2 separate regions of the Homo sapiens genome follow, and region 2 is linked to region 1. A link means that fine-mapping ties the variant in region 1 to the expression of a gene that starts in the linked region. Tissue or cell type: prefrontal cortex. Region 1 holds a variant in brackets; the other region holds the start of a gene. All regions are shown on one strand. Distances are from middle to middle.

What was found. PIP is the estimated chance that this variant, and not a neighbour inherited with it, causes the effect.
Region 2: it holds the start of NEK2, and the variant in region 1 is fine-mapped to the expression of NEK2 in prefrontal cortex (CommonMind, PIP 0.95).

What each region holds. Positions count from the first base shown.
Region 1 is chr1:211,763,822-211,772,004 of GRCh38, reverse strand. All of the region lies in intron 6 of LPGAT1 (lysophosphatidylglycerol acyltransferase 1), which reads left to right. Among named protein-coding and RNA genes, the nearest start is that of LPGAT1, 63 kb to the left of the region's middle. RefSeq lists an enhancer at 6,273-6,442. The variant T/C (reference allele first, on the strand shown) is at 3,939.
Region 2 is chr1:211,671,434-211,679,616 of GRCh38, reverse strand. NEK2 (NIMA related kinase 2) reads left to right here and starts at 3,996. Exons shown (of 8, transcript NM_002497.4): 1 at 3,996-4,233; 2 at 5,104-5,321; 3 at 5,894-6,134. The coding sequence starts at 4,138. NEK2-DT (NEK2 divergent transcript) reads right to left here and starts at 3,855. Exons shown (of 4, transcript NR_148994.1): 1 at 3,751-3,855; 2 at 2,463-2,550. RefSeq lists enhancers at 3,716-4,010, 4,033-4,292.

The sequences.
Region 1 (8,183 bases):
GAGCCCAGGGGTTTGAGGCTAGCCTGGGCAACATAGTGAAACAGGGTTTCTCTAAAAAATAAAAATAAAGTATTTGAAGAAAATATAGGAGACTCTTAATGTCTTCAAGTAGGGTACCCCTTCCTTACAAGACCCAGAAATCAGAAGTCATAAGTCATTAAGGAAAAGATAAATATGAGTACATCAAAACTAAAAACTAGGCTGGGCAGCACGGTCGCTCACGCCTGTAATCCCAGCACTTTGGGAGGCCTGAGGCAGGCAGATCCCTTGAGGTCAGGAGTTTGAGACCAGCCTGGCCAATGTGGTAACCCCATCTGTACTAAAACTACAAAAAATTAGCTGGTATGGTGGTGAGCGCCTGTAATCCCAGCTACTCGGGAGGCTGAGTCATGAGAATTGCTTGAACCCAGGAGGCGGAGGATGCAGTGAGCTGAAATAGCGCCACTGCACTCCAGCCTGGGTGACAGAGTGAGACTCTGTCTCAAAAAAATAATAATAATAAAAATAAGTGAATAAAAATAAAATGTCCAATTAAAAAAAAAATCTAAAAACTAGAGTGTTCAAGAGACACAATAAAGTGTTTGAAGTGCACATAACAAAAATAAGTATTGAGTATACAGTCATGTGTCACTTAATGACAGGGATACCTTCTGAGAAATGTGAAATTAGGTGATTTCATCATTGTACGAACATCATAGGGTGTACTTAGACAAACCTAGATGGTATAACCTACTACACACCTAGGCTATATGGCATAGCCTTTTGCTTCTAGGCTGCAGACCTGTACATCATATCACTGTAGTGAAGACTGTAGGCAATTGGACCACAATGGTAAGTATTTGTGTATCTAAACATAGAAAAGGTACAGTAAAAATACCGTATAAAAGTTGTTTTTTTTTTTTTTTTGAGATAGTGTCTCTCTCTCTGTTGCTCAGGCTGGAGTGCAGTGGCGCAATCTTAGCTTACTGCAACCTCCACCTCCTGGGCTCAAGTGATTCTCCCACCTCAGCCTCTCGGGTAGCTGGGATTATAGGCATGTGCCACCATGCTCAGGTAATTTTTGTATTTTTAGTAGAGATGGGGCTTTACCATGTTGTCCAAGCTGATCTTGAACTCCTGGGGTCAAGTGATCCACCCACCTTGGCCTCCCAAAGTGCTAGGGTTACAGGTGTGAGCCACGGTGCCTGGGCAGTATAAAAGAGTCTTAAAATGATACGCCTACTATATATGGAGCTAGTAGGACTGGGAGTTGCTCTGAGTGAGTCAGTGAGTGATGAGTGAATGTGAAGGCCTAGGATATTACCCTATACTACTGTAGACTTTATAAACACTGTACACATAGGCTACACTAAATTTATTTTAAAAATAAAGTAATTGTGCTATGGCATTACAATGACTATGACATCACTAGGCAACAGGAATTTTTCAGCTCCATTATAATCTACGGGAACCATTGTCATATATGCAGTCCGTCGTTGACTGAAATGTCATGTGGCACATGACTATGTATGTAAACAGCTCAATGGTTTTTACAAATCAATAATAGTATTTAAAACCCAGAAGAAAAATGTACAAAAGACACAAAGACTTTTCATTGTTTATAGAAATAAAAATATATGAAAAGATCAGGGAAATGCAAAACAGGGCAAAATACTATTTTTTACTCATCAATATCAAATATTGGTGAGCTTTTAGGGAAATTAACACACACAAATCGATGCAGCCAATCTGAAGAGCAGTTTAGCAATATTTTAAATTATCTATGACATAGCAGTTCTACTTGGGGCTATATATCCTAGAGAAAGACAGGATATTACTGCAAGATATTTTGTAAGAGTAACAAATTAGAAATAATCTAAATGTCCATTAGTAGAGGGATGACTAAATAAAATATTGTGTATTATTTTTTGTTATGAGAGCATTAAAAATATCATGTATTCTTCAAAGGAATATACTTAACAGATTTTTATTTCTGAGTGTTTGACTCCTTCACTAGTATGTCTAATAGTCCTCTTGTCAGAGGCATTTGAACCAGAGCAACTCCATCTTGAGTAGGGGCTGGGTAGAATAAGGCTGAGACCTACTGGGCTGCATTCCCAGGTGGTTAAGGCATTCTAAGTCATAGGATAAGAGGTTATGGCACAAGATACAGGTCATAGAGACCTTCCTGATAAAACAGGCTGCAGTAAAGAAGCTGGCTAAAACCCACCAAAATCAAGATGGGAACAGGAGTGACCTCTGGTTTTCCTCACTGCTACACTCCTGCCAGCACCATGACAGTTTACAAATGCCATGGAAATGTCAGGAAGTTACCTTATATGGTCTAAAAGGGGAGGCATGAATAATCCACCCCTTGTTTACCGTATAATTAAGAAATAACCATAAAAATGGGCAGCCAGCAGCCATCAAGGCTGCTCTGTCTATGGAGTAGCCATTCTTTTATTCCTCTACTTTCTTTATAGATTTGCTTTCACTTTAGTCTATGGACTCACCCTGAATTCTTGCCCGAGATCCAAAAATCCTCTCTTGCGGGCTGGATCAGGACCCCTTTCCCATAACACTCTCTCAAACTGAACTGTGGATTTTCCTAAAAATATATACTCCTTCATAGCCTTTACCATCTCATTATTGATAGCAGCCTCCATCCTTCCTGTCACTTAGATCAGAAGCCTTGGGGTCGTCCATGGCTCCTCTTTTTCTCTCATATTCCACATCCACTCAGTCAGGAAATCTTTTTGCTTCTAAATTTAAATACATATCCCCTGACCACTTCTTTTCATCCTGGTCCTAGCCACTATCACCTCTACCCTGCTCCTAGATTACTACATAAGCTCCTAGTGTGTCATCCTATTTTTACCTTTGTCCGCTGGAGAATTCCAACATAGTATCCAGAGTGCTCCTTTTAAAAGTCAAATTGTGTCTGTGCTAGGCTCAGAATTCCATCATGGCTTCCCATCTAAAAACCCCTGAAGTCTTAGAGTGGTATCTAAGGCCTTATTTGACCTCTTCCTTCTACTCCTTAGTCATTCCCCTGTGTCTATACTGGCTTTCTTGCTGTTACTGAACATCCCAAACGTATTCCTACTTCATGTTCCTACTGACTGTTTCCTCCTCCACGAGAAGTCTTCCCTTGGAAATCTGTATGAAAATCACCATCACTGCCTTCAGGCCTGCTCAAATGTCCTCTTACCACCCTACTTCAAATTGCAGTTGTTCCCCTCAGTCTAATATGCTTAAGAGGATTTGGGATGATTTTCTAATGATATTTCTTGTATTTGAGCATTATAAAAATGGTATTCAAAGCTCATTTCATAGAGATAATGTCACACCATAGATACCAGAATTAAGCTCTGAAAACCACACGATAGAGATATGTGTTTTGACACATATTAACGTCTCTGAAATTGGGAGACATCTTAAAATCAATGTAATAATGCACTGGCTATAATTTAATTGGACATTTGGCAGGCAGCACTTCAAACAAAAGTCTAAACGATAAATGTTGTTCCTTTCCCTGCCCCACAAAAAAAGAGCAGGCAGCATAGTGGCTGCCATGTGGTTAGAGCTCAACTGTTGACAGTGGGTGCCTCTGGGGAGGGACTCGTACTTTTCATTGTACTATTTGAGTGTTTTTTACAATATGCATGTATTCTTCAATTAAAAATAACTAATTCAAAAAAGAAATTGCCCACAGAATTTAGGATTTTGGTTTAATAACTATTTGAATAATTGCAACAAAAGCATTTTCATCTGGTAGGTATAAAAATTTAATAAGCTCACATTTCAAATGCATACCATTTAATAAGATACTAAATAGGTTTTTCCCTTTTAAATCAAGGATATTGAAATACTCAAATTACATAGTCTAGATTTTCATATTCTAGTGTTTTATCCATAATTTAAAACTGAGCTTTAAGAGATTTTAATTTACATAATTC[T/C]TTTTTGACATAAAAGTTAGAACAAAGTAAAATAAAATTAATATAGTAAAAATCAGTTATTCAACATATTGGGGACCAACTTTTAGGTCAACTTTTTGTAATAACTGAGAGTAACTCTAAGGTATACACCCTCGGGTACAGTAATGATATATGTTCAGGTCTTTGCCACCCTCAGCCCCAGCCCCAAAATTACTCACCTAATGATAATATTGCCTTTAAGGATTTTTGAGCTAATAGTTTCATTTTTTCCCCAGTAGAAGGAAACAGTGTCCTATCTTTAGTTTTTCTTATGCTAGGACTTTTCTCTATCATTGCTTATAATTATTGATAATTTCATCTCTACTTCAGCTATCTAATAATTTTCTTCTTCTTTTCTGCTTTTCTTATCATCACTTGTTTTTTATTGCTTTGCCTCCATATCCTGCTCTTCCCTAGAGAAGTCTGTATGTTTTTCGCCATCAGTCACTGTTCAGAGCTACCAGTTGGAAAATGGAAAATTACATATTAACTTTAAACAAGTTTTTAGTTCTGCTTCACTGTTGTTATTAAATGTTCACTGCCTAAAAGTTTTTATTTTCCACACCAGCAGGTTTTCCCCCTTTGCTTCAAAAAAAACTAATAAAACTTTTCAGGCTGGGTATGATGGCTCATGCCTGTAATCCCAGCACTTTGGGAGGCCGAGGTGAATGGATCACTTGAGGTCAGGAGTTCGAGATCAGCCTGGCCAACATAGTGAAATCTCATCTCTACTAAAAAAAAAATTAGCTGGGCATGGTGACATGTGCCTCTAATCTCAGCTACTTGGGAGGCTGAGGCAGGAGAATCACTTGAACCCAGGAGGCAGAGGTTGCAGTGAGCCAAGATCATGCCACTGCATTCCAACCTGGGTGACAGAGTGAGACCATGTCTCAAAAGAAAAAAAGAAAAAAACTTTTCAGTTTGATGTCATTCAGGATGGAGACATGAAATAAGTGGTCTTAATTGAGGTTTAGCTATATTGTGAATCAAATTCTGTGTTTCTGTAATGATGTTGAAGAATCAGGTGAATCATCCTTACAAATAAGGTAAAATTTCTATTCTCTAATTGGAAGATATGCCTAATTTCAGATATTTAGAAAAAGTATACATGAAAGAAATTTTTTATGTTACCATAATAAGTCAGGGTTCTCCAGAGAAACAGAATCAATAGGACATATAGATGGTCCCTGACTTAAGGTAGTTAACTTCATGATTTTTTGACTTTATGATGGTGTGAAAGTAATAGACGTTCAGTAGATACCACAATTTGAATCTTGAATTTTGATCTTTTCCCAGGCTAGTGATATGCGGTACACTACTCTCTGGAGATACTGGGCAGTGGCAGTGAGCTGCAGCTCCCAGTCAGCCACATGATCATGAGGGTAAACAACCAATACTCCACAGTGTACTGTGTTGCCAGTACTTTTTGGATATTGTGTTTTTTGTTTTCACATCCCATCATCTCTACAAAATGCCCATCTGTGTGCAGTATTAAACACTTTATTATAGAATAGGCTTTGTGTTAGATGATTGCCCAACTGTAGTTTAATGTAAATGTTCTCAGCACATTTAAGGTATGCTAGGTTAAGCTATGATGTTCAGTAGGTTAGGTGTATTAAATGCATTTTCGACTTACAATGGGTTTATCACAATGTAACCCCGTTGTAAGTCAAGGATCATCTGTATAAAGATATGTAGAAAGAGATTTATTATGAGAAATTGGCTCATGTGATTATGGCTGCTGAGAAGTCCCACAGTCTGCTGTCTGTAAGCTGGAGGCCTGGGAAAGCCAGTGGTGTCGTTCCGGTCCAAGCCTGAAGGACTGAGAACCAAGGGAGCCAACGTTGTCAGTTCTAGTCTAAGTCTGAAAGCCGAAGAACTGGGGAGCTGATGGTGTAAGTCCTGGTCCAAGTCAAAAGGCCTTGAGAATTGGGGTACTAACTGTGTAAGTCCCAGTCTCAGTCTGAAAGCCCAGGAACCAGGAGCACTGATGTTGAAGGGGAGGAGAAGATGTATGGCCCAGCTCAAGCAGAGAGAGTAAATTTGCCCTTCCTCTACCTTTTTGTTCTCCTTGGGCCCTCAATGGATTAAATGTTGCCTTCCCACATTGCGGGGGAAGGGAGTGTCCACTTTACTCAATTCATCAATTCAGATGCTATTTTCTTCCAGAAACACACACACAGACACACTTAGAAATAATGTTTTACCAGCTATCTGGGCATCCCTTAGCCCAGTCTAGACTTAGCCCAGATATGAAAAATTAACCTATACACATAGAACTAAAATAATAACAGACAAAGCTAATTTACTGGGTTATTATCAATAGATGAATGTGGATATAATATGATCTTGAAAATATTATAATTTGGTAAGTAACTGGAAATAAGCATTGGAAATAAAGAATTCTCTCCCCACCTCCTTGACTCTTTGGGGGTTTACCATGTCTTTTTCACTTTTAGGTCTTCTTAAGGTCTAGCAAAGTGCCATTGTTATTCCAAAAATACCTCTTATTTTCTAATATAGTTTTGTTGGAAATATTATGCCCCCAAATACAAAAATTCCTAGGGTTTTAATTTTAATTGGACAATGGTTAAACATAATTCTCACTGATAATTGCTGTTTATTTTTTACTTAGTCATTGAATCTGAGAAATGGAAGGACTACCTAGATCTTTTTGTCTAACCTTTTCATTTAACTTATTCTCAAAATTTGAGTGAAAAAAATGACAGAAAAAATAGATATGGATAGAGAGAATGACAAAGTAAAGCAAATGTGAGAAATATTAACATTTGGGGAATCTGGGTGAAGCATATGAGAATTTTTATACTATTTTTACAACTTTTCTTTGAGTCTGAAATTATTTCAAAATAAAAAGTTTAAAAACATCGTTAGACACATGGAAAGTGTAATAGTGATTCTCTTAAGCAGAGAAACCAATGTCAGATTTTGCTTACCGGAGAGTTCACTTCTGCTCAATCAGCAAGCATTTGTTAAGCATCTTACTGTGTGTCTCAAAGGATATAAAATTAATAAAGATATAATAAATTCCAGTTCTAAAAATGCCATCTCATTGTTTGTATCTCCAAATGGCATTTTGAGGGCTCTTGACTGTTGCAAGGAACAAGGCTCAAGAGGAGGGCTCAGTTATCCTTGACTGAGAAGGGGAAGCAGTGGCCTAGGTGCTAAGTATTTGCCATCTTCCTATCTACACAAACTTTAAAGTCACTCAAAAGTATCTGCTGGTATGTCCCTAGGTTTGCTACCTGTATAGTCTTTGGAAATACCTGCCTTGGTTTATTTCCTGTATTAAAGTAGGTAAAAGTTCATATTTGAGTTTCTGAAATTTATTTTCAGATAACTGAGTGATTTCTTTTTTAAACTGTTCTAATAGTTCCAGGGGGAAGCTATAAATATTACATTTTAGTATGTTGTTAGGCCTAACAGCTTAGCTCAGGATAATGGCTTAAAGTAAAACTTCTGGGAATTGAATGCTGGGAGATATTCTGATACGTTAAATTTGACAGTTTCTGTTTTTGTCCATAAATCTATTTTTTGTAACAAGTAGTTTCTGGATTTCTGAGTTATTGTTGCCACACTAACCCTGGTAGTGTCCATGAACATTGATGATTGTCTACAGATGACACCACATAAAGTTTTGTGCTCACAGATTACTGTAATTTAATTCTGTTCAGCAAACCTGAGTTCCTACTAAGGACTAGGCACTGATTTATACACTGGGTGCAAAGCTGAGAATAGCGCAGTCTGTTAGACAAAACAGGCACATGAGAAAATAAATAGAGCACAAACTAATAGGTATAATCATAGACACAGTTACAAAAGACAGTTGGCACTGAGAAGGATTTTTTTTTTTTTTTTGAGATGGAGTCTCTCTCTAGTCGCCTAGGCTGCAGTGCAGTGGCATGATCTCAGCTTGCTGCAACCTTTGCCTCCTGGGTTCAAGTGATTCTCCTGCCTCAGCCTCCCACATAGCTGGGATTACAGGCACATGCCATCACGCTCAGCTAATTTTTGTATTTTTAGTAGAGACAGAGTTTCACCATTTTGGCCAGGCTGGTCTCAAACTCCTGACCTCAGGTGATCCACCCGCCTTGGCCTCTCAAAGTGCTGGGATTACAGGCATGAGCCATGGCACCCAGCCCAAGAAGGAATTTTTAATTATCTAGGAGAGGAGAAGGAGGAAGCTGAAGGAGAAGAGGACAATGGTTT
Region 2 (8,183 bases), 92 kb after region 1:
GACTATATGTCTGTCCTATTCACTGTGGTATCCTCAGCATCTGGCACCTGACTCAGCCTCTATTTATACTTGTTGGAGGATGAATTTTCCATTTAATAAGGCAGAGAAGATACATGCACATGAGAAGCTAGTAATATGGCCTAGTATAATTCTAAATGAGTAAAAACACAGTTGATTACTCTTAAGAGTAATTAGAAGATAGATCATAGTGGGTTGAAGTCAATCAGGAAAAATTTCAGAGAAGAAATTGGGCATGAGCTGAGACTTAAAGAATGGATGGAATATGAAGGAAAAAGGAAAGAAGTTATAGGGGAAAGGATGTTCCCTGTAACCTGTCCCTGTTTGACTCCCACATGCTTCTCATCTCCCAGTGTCTCTTTCTATTCTGGTGTCTAGTGGTCTCTGCTGGGCTGTCCTGCCCTCACTCATGATGCGGGCTAACTCTGGCCAACCTTTAGGGTTTGTCATGTGAGTGATTCCTATGCTACCCTTTTTTTTTTTCTTTTTTTTGAGACGGAGTCTTGCTCTGTCGCCCAGGCTGGAGTGCAGTGGCGCGATCTCGGCTCACTGCAAGCTCCGCCTCCCGGGTTCACGCCATTCTCCTGCCTCAGCCTCCCCAGTAACTGGGACTGCAGGCGCCTGCCACCACACCCAGCTAATTTTTTTGTATTTTTAGTAGAGGCTGGGTTTCACCATGTTAGCCAGGATGGTCTCGATCTCCTGACCTCATGATCCGCCCACCTTGGCCTCCCAAAGTGCTGGGATTACAGGCTTGAGCCACCGTGCCCGGACTTTTTTTTTTTTTTTTTTTTTTTTTTTTTTTTTGAGACAGGGTCTCGGTCTGTTGAGCAGGCTGGAGTGTGGTAGTGCAATCTTGGCTCACTGCAACCTCTGCCTCCCAAGTTCAAGCGATTCTCCTGCCTCAGCCACCCAAGTAGCTGGGACTACAGACGTGCCACCACACCCAGCTATTTTTGTATTTTTAGTAAAGGCAGGGTTTCACCATACTGGCCACACCCAGCTAATTTTTGTATTTTTAGTAGAGGCGGGGTTTCACCTTATTGGCCACGCTGGTCTTGAACTCCTGACCTCAGGTGATCCGCCTGCCTCGGCCTCCCAAAAGGCTGGGATTACAGGCATGAGACACCACACCCAGCCTCCTGTGCTACTCTTTATTATTGTCTTTGGGGCTCCACTGTCTTTTTTTAAATGAAAAGCCAGCATGTCAATACCTATCATACCTGGGCCATAGCAAGTGCTCAATAAATACTTGTTAAATGAGCATATGTGCGTAGGAGCCACATTCCATACTCTTGGGATGGCTCCTTTCCAGATATTTCGTCTCTGCCTAGAGCTGGGGCATTTGGCAATTGAGTACTTGAGGGCCCACTCAAAATCCTTGCATAATTATTAATAAGGGGCTTTCGCAGATTTTTATTTAACGAAGCTTTATTGCATGCCTTCTCTATTACAGGACTTATGCTGGCTATAAGCAGTTCGGAGTTCAGCTACTGTGAGAGCCATGTAAACAAATAATGATAAGTTTTGATTTATGTATAAAGTGGTCTATGAACACTGTAGATGGAGGATTGACTGTCCAAGTACGCCAGAGAGGCTTCTCAGATTACAGGAGAAAAAGTTGGAATTGAATCTTGAAGGACACGTTATGTCCTCTGGGCAGACATGACTGGAGTGGATAAGGGAGTGGGTTGGACAGTATTCTGGACAAATGCAATCACAGGTGCAAAGATGGTGGTGGTGGTGAGGAACTGAGAAAGTGTGCGTTTAGAGCAAAAGCAGAAGTGGCCAGAGAGAAGGTGCAGGACTGGATTTGGGGCAGGATAACCAAACGGCTCATTTTTTTTTTTTTTTTTTTCTTGAGACGGAGTCTCACTCTGTCGCCTAGGCTGGAGTGCAGTGGTGTGATCTCCACTCACTGCAACCTCTGCCACCTGGGTTCAAGCGATTCTTCTGCCTCAGCCTCCCGAGTAGCTGGGATTACAGGTGCCTGCCATTGTGTCTAATTTTTGTATTTTTAGTAGAGACGGGGTTCACCATGTTGGCCGGGCTGATCTTGAACTCCTGACCTCGTAATCCACCCGCCTTGACCTCCCAACGTGCTGGGATTACAGGTGTGAGCCACCGTGCCCGGCCAGGGCTCTGTCTTATACAGTTTCATGTTGCTATAATAGGATGCCACAGACTGGACAATTTATAAACAATAGTTTATTTGGCTCACGGTTCTGGAAGCTAGGAAGTCCAAGATCAAGGGGTAGCATCTGGCAGCAGCCTTTTCTCTGGGTCATAAAATAGCAGAAGGCATCACATGGTAAGAGAAACAGCAAGGGAAAGCCAAACTCATTTTTATAACCAACCGACTCTCAAGATAACCCACTCCTGTGATTACGTTAATCCATTCGTGAGGGGTAGCCCTCATAACCCAATCAATTTAAAGGTCTCACCTCTTAACACTTTTGCATTAAGAATAGTTTCCAACACATGAACTTTGGGGGATACATTCAAACCACAGCAAGCTCTATGGATACCAATCTGTAAGAGGCACAAAAATAAAAAAATGATGCTAATTAACACAGCCACTTGCAGTGCCTTACATAACTTTTGAAACCTAAATTGGTCCTATTCCCCTGAGGTAAGACAGTGCCCTTGAATGTTAATTTAAAAATTCTCCTGGTTGGCAATTCCAATTATCTTATGTTATATTCAGGGCATGTAATAAGTCCCTTATTTTTACATAAAGAGCTTTTAAATTCTTATTAATAGAAAATCAGGTGTCTTTTAATCCTTTGCTGAACAGATATTTAAAGAAAACTGGCCTGTTCATGCATTTCCAAATTATTAGCTTTCTGGTAATTTACATATTCCTCTAACAAGCCCTGGATGGAGGCCTCTAAGTCCTCCTTCCCTGGTAAACATGGGGCTGTTCATTTGGCTGGGTAAGCTGAGAACGTTGGTGTGTGGGTGCGTAAAAGAGAATCTGTGTTCAATGAAGTATTGTCGATAGGGTTAATTGTGTATTTGGCACACATAAACGGGACAAGACGTGTAAAGTACTTGGTAGGAGAGCGACAGTATTTCTCCTTTTTTTTTTTTTTTTGGAGACTGGGTGTCACTCTGTCGCCCAGGCTGGAGTGCAGTGGCGCACGGCTCACTGTAACCTCTGCCTCCCAGGTTCAAGCAATTCCTCATGCCTCAGCCTCCCAAGAAGCTGGGATTACAGGCCTGCAACCCCATGCTCTGTTACTTTTTTTTTTTTTTTTTTCATTTTTAGTAGAGACGGGGTTTCGCCATGTTGGCCAGGCTGGTCTTGAACTCTTGGCCTCGAGCAATCCGCCCGCCTCGGCCTCCCAAAGTGCTAGGATTATAGGCGTGAGCCACAGCGCCCGGCCTAATTTTCGTATTTTCAGTAGAGACGAGGTTTGCCCTGTTGCCCAGGCTGGTCTGAACTCCTGGGCTCAAGCGACCCACCCACCTCGGCTTCCCAAAGTGCTAGGGTTACGGGCGAGCGTGAGTCACCGCGCCCACCCGGGAGTCTGTATTTCTAATTTGTATTCAGCTCTCAGCATATCCTCAACGTGACCCCACCCAGGTTCAGGGTACTGGAACCTGAGCGAGGAATGCGTGTGCCGGGGAGAGTAGGTAGTGTGAGGGGCCAGAGTGCAAAGGTCAGAAGGCATCTGGTGGAAGCGGTGTGCAAAGAAGCCTGAGGGGAGGACCTTAGATCTCGGTTACCTTGGCGATCTCTATCAGAGGGTTAGAGTTGCCGAGAGGCGCCAGCTGCCGCTTCCTCTCTCCCGCCCTCCGTTTGGCTTAGCTCGCCGGGTTCTCCCACAGGTTAAAAGCAGACGCCGACGCGGTTGCCTAGTGACACTTTTCCCAAAATGCCTAGGGTATTGTTGTGTTCTTCTTAGCCAATGAGAGAGGCGAAGCGGCCCACCGCCTGCCAATAGACTGCGAGATCAGGGCCCGCGACGGTTAAACGGGGCCCAAGGCAGGGGTGGCGGGTCAGTGCTGCTCGGGGGCTTCTCCATCCAGGTCCCTGGAGTTCCTGGTCCCTGGAGCTCCGCACTTGGCGGCGCAACCTGCGTGAGGCAGCGCGACTCTGGCGACTGGCCGGCCATGCCTTCCCGGGCTGAGGACTATGAAGTGTTGTACACCATTGGCACAGGCTCCTACGGCCGCTGCCAGAAGATCCGGAGGAAGAGTGATGGCAAGGTGAGCGTGGGACCTACCCTGCGCCTGCCCCTGCTTAGGTTTCGTCGCCTCGGGGCGAGCGCCCTGCGCCACCGAAGGGAACCGACAGGGCTGAGGAAATGGGTGCCCGGAAGACTAAACCGTCTTTCCTGGGTCTGCATCTGACAGCCTGTCCTGGGTGGCTTAAAGGATGGGAGACCGCTTCTTTTGATATATGTATTTCCATCTTTTCCCGTTTCTCTCCCCATTTCTCTCTTTCTCCTGCTTTGGCTTGCTAAGGACCTTCCATTGGTGACAGGTAACTAATTCCTGAGCTGTTTTTAGAGCTCTAAGAGTGGCCCTCTCAGGCACAAGAAAGGGGCAGGACTACCAGAACCCGAAGCTTTGTATCTGCAGTCAGACTCCCTCAAAATATCCATTATTAGGATTATTGGATTCATATTTCCCAATGTATATAGGTAGAACTTTTACAGAAAGTAACATTGGACAGGAAACTGCCTGGCTGCTGATGGAGGGATCTTTACCAAGGTGTCTCATCCTGGGAAAACACGACTGGGGTGGAATGGGGCAGGGACTTTGACCACCTTCACCCCAATTTTGACTATAGTACCTTTTAGCCAACTTCCCACTAACCAACTGAGGGTAGGGGTTGGGGGAGTCCTCATGTGCCTCATTCCCGTTTGTCTCCCCACAACATACATTTACTGCTTAGAACTGGAGGAAGATTATGGAAGTAAACTCACAGCTCCTTAAGTTCATTGAACTAAATTAGATAATGACCTTGATTGTAGGATATAATTAAAAGGGAGGTAATTTGTTAAATCTTGGAACTTTCATTCTTTGTTTTTGAGCATAATGAGTTCATTCATACCTTGGAAATTCTTATTTCAGATATTAGTTTGGAAAGAACTTGACTATGGCTCCATGACAGAAGCTGAGAAACAGATGCTTGTTTCTGAAGTGAATTTGCTTCGTGAACTGAAACATCCAAACATCGTTCGTTACTATGATCGGATTATTGACCGGACCAATACAACACTGTACATTGTAATGGAATATTGTGAAGGAGGGGATCTGGCTAGTGTAATTACAAAGGGAACCAAGGAAAGGTAAGCATAATCTTTTAAAAATGTAAGCTGAAATTGGTCTAGTTTCATTTATTTTAAGCATCTTGTTTTAGGATCAGTAATATGGAAGAGTGTATTTGTATTTGTTTGGTAGGTCCACAGTACTTTAGAAAATTCCTGGTGAATCAACACCCATATTTTATATCAAAATAACAATTTATAGGCTGAGTGTGGTGGCTCACACCTGTAATCCCAACACTTTGGGAGGCCGATGCGGGAGGATCACTTGAGCCCAGGATTTCAAGACCAGCCTGGGCAACATAGTGGGACCCTGTTTCTACAAAAATTAGCCAGGTATAGTGACATGTGCCTGTAGTCCAAGCTACTTGGGAGGCTAAGGCAAGAGGATTGCTTGAGCCTGGGAGGTCGAGGCTGCAGTGAGCCATGATCGTGCCACTGCATTCCAGCCTGGGTGACAGAGTAAGACCCTGTCTCAAAAAATATAAATAAATAAATAAATAAATTCCCTATTTGTACACTGGATAATTTATATCATCCCATCTTGGCAATGATTTTTTTAGAAGTTATATGCTGTATAACTGCTTTGGTTTTAGGCAATACTTAGATGAAGAGTTTGTTCTTCGAGTGATGACTCAGTTGACTCTGGCCCTGAAGGAATGCCACAGACGAAGTGATGGTGGTCATACCGTATTGCATCGGGATCTGAAACCAGCCAATGTTTTCCTGGATGGCAAGCAAAACGTCAAGCTTGGAGACTTTGGGCTAGCTAGAATATTAAACCATGACACGAGTTTTGCAAAAACATTTGTTGGCACACCTTATTACATGTCTCCTGTAAGTATTTCAGAATTTAGCTACTTTTTAAAACATCTTTTATTTTTGTTTTCTTGTTTGTTTGTTTTTGAGACAGAGTCTCGCTCTGTTGCCCAGGCTGGAGTGCAGTGGTGCGATCTGGGCTCACTGCAATCTCTGCCTCCCAGGTTCAAAGGATTCTCCTGCATCAGCCTCCTAAGTAGAGTAGCTGGGACTACAGGTGCATGTCACTATGCCTGGCTAATTTTTGTATGTTTAGTAGAGACAGGGTTTCATCATGTTGACCAGGCTGGTCTCGAACTCCTGACCTCAAGCGATCTGCTCACCTCAGTCTCCCAAAGTGTTGGGATTACAGGCGTGAGCCACCATGCCCAGCCAAAACATCTTTTAATGTTAAGCATTCTGAAGCAGGGAAATTGAGTTTTCTGTTTGTTTAGTAATATCTAGTAGCCAAGAATTGAAAATACTGTTATATTTTTCCACATGGACCACCAGACCAATAAAGTCTATATCAGTTTTTGTTTGCTGCATGAGTTATGTGCATTAATGTAAGTATGATGAAGACAGATTCCTAGTCTAAGGTTTGCGCCGTTTGTCATCTCTCACTGGGTTCAATTTTTTGAGCATTCATGCAAATTAAAGCATATTCAGTTCAAGCTTTTATGGAATGACTATGATGCATTAAACTCAAGGATTACAAAAATGAAATGGATTTTGTCCTTGCCCTCAAGAGTTGTTTCCCAATGTGTAGGTCCTAGTTATCTGCATCAGACTCACTTGGAGTGTTTGTTTAAAATGCAGAGTTCTGGGTCCCAAACCCAAACCCAAATCCATCGAGTGAATTTCGATCTCTGGGTGGGTTCTTGAACTCTGTTTTTTTTTTTTTTTAATATTTTACTTTTTATTTTAGACTTTGCATTTAAGAGGCTCTGTAAATGATTCTTGTGTATGCAGAATCAGAGCTCAGGAAGTTTGCTCACTTCAGATAGCATGTTTTTACAATGTTAACTTTTTGTACATTTTATTTTTTTGTTGCCTATCCCTGAAATATCTTGCTGAGTCCACTCACCAATTACCTCTATTGCTGGATATTTTGTTTCCAACATGTTTCACCATTCTTAGAAGTACTGCTCTGCATATCTTTGTATGAATTATTCTTTCTTCCTTTTTGGTTATTTCCTTGGAGTGTAGCTCATAAAATGAAATTGCTGGGGTAAATGTTTATGGCTGTTATTAGATATTGTCTGATGGCTTTTAAAAAGTTTAAGTCAATTGTGATAGCACTAATGTGTTAGTATATAACATCTGAACAGATAAAGATGAAGAAATATTTGTTAGTATTTTAGTAGTTCACCTTTCTAGGATTTTCCAAATATTTATAAATTATGTTAACAGATCTTACTATAGTATAAAACTTTGTAAATTAATGATTTTGGTTTTGACTAAAAATAGCCAGAACAGTACCATTTTCTCACTGTATCAAATTCCAAATAGAATGTTTTTAACATAAAGGACAATTATCCAGAAGTGGTTCTTGGGAAATTTGAAACCTATTCTTTTGTTCCTTTTCCCTCCTGCCCTTGTAATTAGAGTGGTTCAGCTTTCCTAAGGCACTGATTGTCAAAAAGTGGCATCAGACTCACCAGTTGGACTTTAAAACACTAACCAGCCACTAGAGATTGCTTCTATTCCCTCTGTTGAGAATAGGAGCTCTGGTAGGCTGTTGTTACTGTAGATGTGGAAGAAAGGCAAACAATAAAATAGGTAAGGATAATATTAGTTACTACTGTGATTTATGGAGTGGACTAAGACAAAATATAAATGGATAATTCAATTAGCTATTTATGTCTATATCCATTTAAATGTGGACTAGATACATATTTTGACTATTCTTAAATTTCCTCTAGTTCTTTTAAAATGGTGTTTCTTAATTTGCCTTGAGAGTAGAAGTCTCTCATATTCACCTCTGTATTGTCAGTGCCTAGTCTATACTAAGCACTTTCATTTGTGAATGGAAAATGAGTGAATGAATTATGTATGATGGAGTGTATTGGAACAAGATCATTGCCT